Homo sapiens: one gene and its partner. The protein of the gene in region 2 purifies or fractionates together with the protein of the main gene of each other region. This does not show direct contact. Each region holds a gene or a part of one and is shown on either strand. Other genes may lie near its edges.

Region 1 (3,500 bases), on a different chromosome or scaffold from region 2:
AGCTGCTGTGTCCGCCTCCACTGCCAAACCTGGCCCAGGGCATCCCACTTTCCATCTGAACAACTGCAGCACCTGCTGAAACGGCCGCTGGTTCCACTCTTGGCTTTTATAGAGCACACCCAGCAGCACTGCATTGGAGTGACTTTAAAACAATACACAAACAAATATTCCTCTTTTAAAATACACCACTGCCCATCCATAGCCCGTAAGATAAAGCCTAAACTCTCTATCAGACTCAACTATGCCATCAATTGCTTTTTTGTCCCTTTCTCATATCCTATCACCTCCCCAGCCAGCTCCCAATACACAACATGGCAGCAGAAGTTTCATCTTCTTTGGAAGCAGTCTAAATGCCAGCTCTAACTCAGGGATCACAGGCCTTCCCAGCCTCTAATCTGTTGTCGATGCCATCCCACCCTTTGCTCACCATCTCCAGGTATGTGGTGTTCTGTTCCCAGAGAGGCCTGACCTAGTCCTGGTGCCACCCCTGATCCTGGTGCCTCCCCCTGCTCTTCTCATGCCTAGGTCTCCTCCTCCCTCAGATCTCAGTTTCAATGGCACCACCTCGGAGCAGGGATCCCGTCACCCAGGCCACAGCAGCAGCCATGCTCATCCTCTGTGGACTTCCTTCGGCAAACTCATATGGCTCTGTAATTAGACCCCTTTACTGCTCACCTCCCCAGGTAGCCCCCATGGATGCTGGCACTCCGTCTAGAAAGGGCAATGAACAAACGGGCATATTAGAGAGGCTTAGCCAAGAACTGATGTTCTCTACTTAAAGAAAGTCATTTCTGTAAATGTGATTAATTGGGGTAACACTATAATAATAAAGGGTCAAATCAGCCAATTAAATTCTTTTAGGGCAGACTATCAGAAGTTTCTACTCTGATAAACACAGCAAATCTATTCTCTGCTCATTCTTGAGATTCTGAAACTACCCATAACACAAGGATGTTATAAAAAAACTAAGTGAAATCAAAAGTAATCTTTAAATCTTTAGTTTTATGTTTATTTCCTTCTCCAGCCCCACAGAGATAGAAAAATAAATAGACTGACATAGGTCTCCACATACTGGGTTAGTTTTGATACTCTCTGTGGGAGGCCACTGAATACAATGCTCCAATGGCAGGCAGCACAAGAGGATGGAGTCCTGGAGGGCGCAATCCTCTGTAAATGACTGAAATGGAGGCTCCAGGAGGACAGTGGCCTTGTCAGTTCGTTGCCACCATCTTGCCAGTACATAGATGCTGCTGAGATGTCTTGAGTTATCTCCTGTGTATGTATTAAACGACTAAACCTGTAATCAACTCCCTAAACAACACCCTAATTATATAGAAGGTCCCTTTACTGTGAAATATATCTGTGAAGAAACAATACACAGTATATCTCAATAACTTTAGACAATGCTAATTCTTGAACTGCAATCTATTATTGGTAAACACAACCCCACAGCATATGGGTTAAGGCAGTGATGACATTTCTTAAGGATGTCCCAAGACTTATTATGACAGTGAATATTTTCATAACCCCTTTTCTGATCACTATGAAAGAAGCCTATAAATAAAGGAAATGGTAACCTCTTTTGCTCAAGCACCCCACTCAGGGGGTGATAAAAATGAGATGTCTATTCCTTTCCTACCAACAGCAGGCATTGTAATTTTTAGGCGGGGAACAAAGTTGATAGCTTTGGTCGCACAAGACAGTAGCTGTTAAGGAGGCCAAGCAGGAGAACAAACAAACCCACCAAAAACCCCGAGAGAAGTCTCTTATCTGTTATACTAAGTGTCAAATCCCTGTACCAACTTTCATGTAAGGAAGAGAAGCTAGAAGTTGTGGGAAACTATTCCCTGGACTAACCAAATGGAAGACTATACAATTAACCAATGGGTCCTGCTGGCCTCCAGCTCCATCACTGAAGTAGACTGGGGGCTGTAGCATGGAGAGGAGAATGGCAAACACGAATATCAGGGAACTTTCTAAGGATTTTCATTGTCCTTCAAAATCCCGCTGTCCTTAAACTTCTGGCTTCATTTCTAGTGAATGTTCTCTGTGGGTTAGAAAAGACTCATATCAAACTCACAGCCTAAATGTGAGGTTTCAGTATGAAGTTTCTTACAATTCAGGGACTGATCAATATAAACAATTTAAGTGACAAAAGTGCAAATATTTTGAGCTCAGTAATACTAAACCATTTACTATTATTCAGAGGTGTAGGCAACTGGTTACTGATGAATGCTAATAGGACCATAAAACTATGTTTCAAAATATATCTAGTCATATTAATATGTTACCATAAAAATCACAAGCATCAAATGGTCTTTAAAATTGTTCTTAAAAACATAAACAACTTTGTAGTTGAGAGAACCACAAAATATCTACGAGCAAAAATATACATTTAAGTTTCTATAAAAACTCAAATCCAAATAAACCCCAAAGATATTTAATTGGTCTGTATTTCATTATTCAACAGTCAACTTTTAAAAACTAGTCCTCCTATCTTCCATTTATGATACGCATTGGCCCTCTAAGCCTTACTCTATTGAAATGGAGGCTCCAGAAGGGCAAAGGCCTTGCCAGTTGGTTGCCACCATCTTGCTAGTACCTAGCCGCTGCTGAGATGTCTTATCTCCTCTGCATGTGGTGAACACTGGAGATAACCAACAAAATATTTCACCAAGATCTTATTTACCTAAGTATTCCATTTTTCTAACTTATTTGAACAGAGGAAAAGTCCAAATCCCTTCACTATAATAGCAAATGGCAAAGTACTACGTATTTCTATTTTGCAGTATTTCTGTAATAATCTTTATGAGAAATTAGGGCATTCACATTCCCAGAGAGAAATGAATGCAGCAAACATCTGACCATCATTCTATGGCTAAGTCACTCTTTGGCCCTAAGTACTTAGGAAGATGATTTAACTCTGCTCTTCCAAGCACCAGAATCAGGAACTCTGGTAGAGTGTCGGGCCATCTAGATGGACATAGAATCTTTATCCTCCACAGAGCCAGAGCTGCCACCTTTACCTGAGCCTTTGATTTCCTTCCTTCTTTGGATTTGTTGTGGCTTAGGAGGAAGAGAACCCATGGGAAGCGCTCAAATGCAAGGTCGCAACCATAGCCTGCCACGTGTCACATCTCACACCCCCGTATCTCCACCCTTAACCCAGAATTCAAACTCACAAATCATTCATTTATATTACAGCTTTAGTACACAAAATGATAGTCTTGTGTCTTTCAGAAGGATGATGCAACCCTGTGAAGAACTTATTGCATGGCACTCACAGACCAAATGAACCCTTATTTGTCCTAATTATGTTTTCCTTACAAATTATAAATAGATTTTAAGTCCCACTTTGATATCATAAGAACTCATTAACACTTTAAACAATGGATAAGGCGGTTTTGAAAACTGGATGCTTACTCTATATCATCCAAATATAAATCCTAAGGAACCAGAGTTTCTATGTGGAAGAGCATTTTACTTCAATCCTAAATTAT
Region 2 (3,500 bases):
TAGTGCCTAGTTGGTGCTCAAAAAAAGTCTGATGAATGAATGAGTGAGCCAATGAGCTGTCCATCTGTATTTTCTGTGACTCCCTCCCTTTGATACCTTAGCTGGGCCCCAGCCCACAGGCAGCTTTCCAGGGCTGGGATGGAGGGAGGGATTAGCATGGAGGAACATTTTGTGTGCATGATGGGGGTGGATTCAGCTATACCCCAAAACCACTAGCCATGAATTTTAGGTCATCTACTAATTCGGGATTATTTCTGTCTTTGTTGTCATCTATTAAACAGTCACAGAGAGTACATCAGTTCTACTCAGAATGTGGCTCAAGGGGAAAACAAAACAGGGACCCTTCAGCACTCTGGTGTACTGCTCTGTCTCTGTCACTGGGTGCTCCACCCCAGCATGGCCCAAGATTTAGGATTGTTCCTAAAGATGTCAAGTTATCCAGAAAGCAGAGAAGGCAGAAGGGCTTCTCTCTTCACTCCTTGTATTTTATCTTTGGTGCCAACCCTAAACAAGGGGCCTTCTCCTGCTTCTCCGCAAGGCTGTGTGAGCAGGATGCCTCCCCGTACACTGGTTCTGACACCAAGCAGCTTCATTCTGAGGCAAACAGATGAACATCTTCCTGCCACTCCTCTGTCAAGCCACACAAAGCCCTTAGAGTAAATGCTTCTTTCCCAGAGTCACCTTCTGATTTTCTGCCTAAATGCAGTGGAATTTGAAGTCAGTCACCTAGATTCTGATCCAGCTGCGTCACTTGTCAGCTATTGCCTTTGGTAAGTAGCTTGAACTCCCTGGGCCCTACGTTCTTTATCTTTAAAAAGGAATCATCAAAATAAGCAATAATAATACTGTTATGATTCTGGGCATTCCTGACCCTAGCTTGCAACACTAATGTGGAAGGCTTTGGGGACTGAAGAGTTGAGTTTGAACCTTTACCAAGAAGCCCTAGCCTATGTCTCCTAGACCTTGAAAGCCTCTCTCCTCCACCACTGCAGGCTAGCAAGGAGGCAGGGAGAGGGATGAGATAAGATCTCCCAAGAGTGTGGATTCCCTTGAGAAAGAGCCTGATAAACAGCAAGGAACAATCAGGAAGTTGCCATCTTGATCTGAGAAACCAAATTATCTAAAGAATCACTTCCCACCCACTACCATTAGGGGAGTTAAGATCTGAGGCCTCAAACTTCTGCTTTATCCTTGGAGTTAGACTTGAATGAAAAGGTAGAAATTACTTGATTCCAGATCACACTGAAGAGACCCCCTCATTTATGATAATTAGCGGGGGAGTTGAGATGCCAACTACTCATGTGGCTTCTCCCCTCCAGACAGAACTCTCTGCCTCCAGGGAGTGGTTTCTGACCTGCCCCACCTGGTCCTAGTTCCTCAGTCTGGACTCTGTTTACACCACATTCACCTGCACTCAGCTGAGTGCATCCTCCAGGGGTGCTGTTGATCTAAGTGGGTGCCAAGGACAGAGCTGTGTCTTCTCCTCCCCTTTGGCTTCCCCCAGTGCCCAGGAGAGTGCTGTGCTCCCAGCAAGCTATGGGCCACCACAGTGAGTCATGGGGCAGACAAGACAGAGTCTGGAGCAGAGGGCCCTGCATACTTCACTATGGGGAGTTTTGCGGCCTCACCTTGGTCTGGTACAGGGCCTCGGCCTCGGCCTTGCTCTTCCGGGCGATCTCCTCATACTGGGCACGGACCTCAGCAATGATGCTGTCCAGGTCCAGGTTCCGGTTGTTGTCCATGGACAGGATGATGGACGTGTCGCTGATGTGGGACTGGATCTGAGCAGTCTCCTGCAGGGGAAACAAGGAAGCATGAAATGCCTTCTGTGACCAGAGAAAGGTCCCAAGGTGATGGCCCTGTCCCAGAGGGATGGCCCTAGACCATCCCACACAGATGGAAGCTGCACTTCCCAAAGCTTGTAAGAACAGAGCTCACAGCCCAGAGGTTCCAATACCACATCTGAAAACTGCTGAATGGGTTTGAAGCAGCCCAGGAAGAAAACAGCCCATATGTCTGTCCCCTGAGACAGGACAGGAGTGGGGAAGGTGGAAGACAACAGCCTGGCTGCCACACATGGGACACTAAGGGGCACAGGAGCCCAGAAATGCTTGGCCAATAGGTTGAGGCTTGAAACCAGATGTACATAGAGAAGGCAGAAGGGGTATGAGGACTTCCTACCTCTATCCCTGGGGATTCCTGCCCAAGACCCCAGGAAACATCCCCAGCCACAGAGAGAAGAGAAGCAGGAATGAGAATATGCTTGGCTGAAGTTCAGTGGGAACCCTTTAAGGACTCTGTTTTCCTGGAGGAAGTGAAAGCAGGACATCCTCAGGGCAGTCAGGGATGGATGGGGCACCAGGATAGATGGCCACTCCCACCTTTGATCTACAAATTTCTCAGCACCCCAATGCTGGAGGTGCCCTGGACTGCTTAAGTTACAGATAAGTAAGAAACTGTTCATCACATATCTGTCCTTCCAGAAGACAGAGCCAGAGGTGGGGCAGGGGGAGCCTTACCCCCTCGTACAGACACTTGAAGAACTTGATTTCTCCATCCAGGGCATCCACCTTGGCCTGCAGCTCCACTTTGCTCGTGTAAGCTGCGTCCACGTCCTATGGAGAATCCAGATACCCCTGACCTCACCTTTCTTCAAGCCCAGACAGGCCTCTCCAGCGAACTGACACCTGCAGGCCCTGCCCTAGCTAGCTGCCCAGGACTTCAGATCCAAGGGGCAGGAACCGGCCTTCCAGCCACAACTTCACTGTCAGACTCACTGCGAAACCTGGGGCAAGTTTCTCATGCCTCTGGAACTCCTTCTGCCTCTATTTCTCAGAGAAGGGTGTGAGACTCTATACCCCACTCAGCCAGTCATTCAGCCAACAGAGGGAGGCAAGGACAGCCACGGCGATTTGCCAGAAACTAGCAGAGTTGGAAGGCAAACCTGCAGCCCCTCCCAAAGCCTGTCCTGTTCCCCAGCCAGAGGGGACATGAGTTGGGACTGACTATCCACATCTAGGTTCCTGTCCACAGACAAAGTACTGTGTGCTAAACCAACACCAGGTGTCCCAAAATGTCCCAAGCAGCAAGCCCTTCATCTCCTCCTTCAGCACTTTGGCTCCAGGCCCTTCTGCGGGGGGCTCAGACCTCAGCTGCTCCTCTCTCTTAGCCCAGCACCCACTGCTGGGGGACTGAAGGGAACCCATGCACCCTCCTCACCTTCTTAAGCACCACAAATTCATTCTCAGCAGTTGTGCGCTTGTTTATTTCTTCTTCATACCTGCAGGGAAAGCATCACAGGAAGCAGAGTGTGTGTCTGTGTGTGTGTGTATACGTTCTCATAGTGAAATGAGAAAAGAGATACCCATATTATATGCCTTTTAAGAGGTATTATTCTATACCTTTGCAAGTCCATCCCAACACACCAGGACTATTTGGCCAGAGTTGGAGGCCGGGTATGAAGTAACCTCCTCCTGAGCCTGGGTGGTTTGAGGTCTGAT

Evidence for each region. Proteins that work in one complex are often made in the same cells at the same time.
Region 1: the proteins of KRT73 (region 2) and GAN purify together in Homo sapiens (affinity purification with mass spectrometry; one large-scale study listed by BioGRID and IntAct). This does not show direct contact.

What each region holds. Positions count from the first base shown.
Region 1 is NC_000016.10:81,321,462-81,324,961, reverse strand, and holds part of GAN (gigaxonin), read right to left. Parts: intron 1-3,500. UniProt on the Homo sapiens protein: Probable cytoskeletal component that directly or indirectly plays an important role in neurofilament architecture.
Region 2 is NC_000012.12:52,612,060-52,615,559, forward strand, and holds part of KRT73 (keratin, type II cytoskeletal 73), read right to left. Parts: intron 3,281-3,500; coding exon 3,220-3,280; exon of another isoform or gene 2,616-3,219; coding exon 2,520-2,615; exon of another isoform or gene 1,794-2,519; coding exon 1,629-1,793; exon of another isoform or gene 1,505-1,628; intron 771-1,504; exon of another isoform or gene 282-770; intron 1-281. UniProt on the Homo sapiens protein: Has a role in hair formation. Specific component of keratin intermediate filaments in the inner root sheath (IRS) of the hair follicle.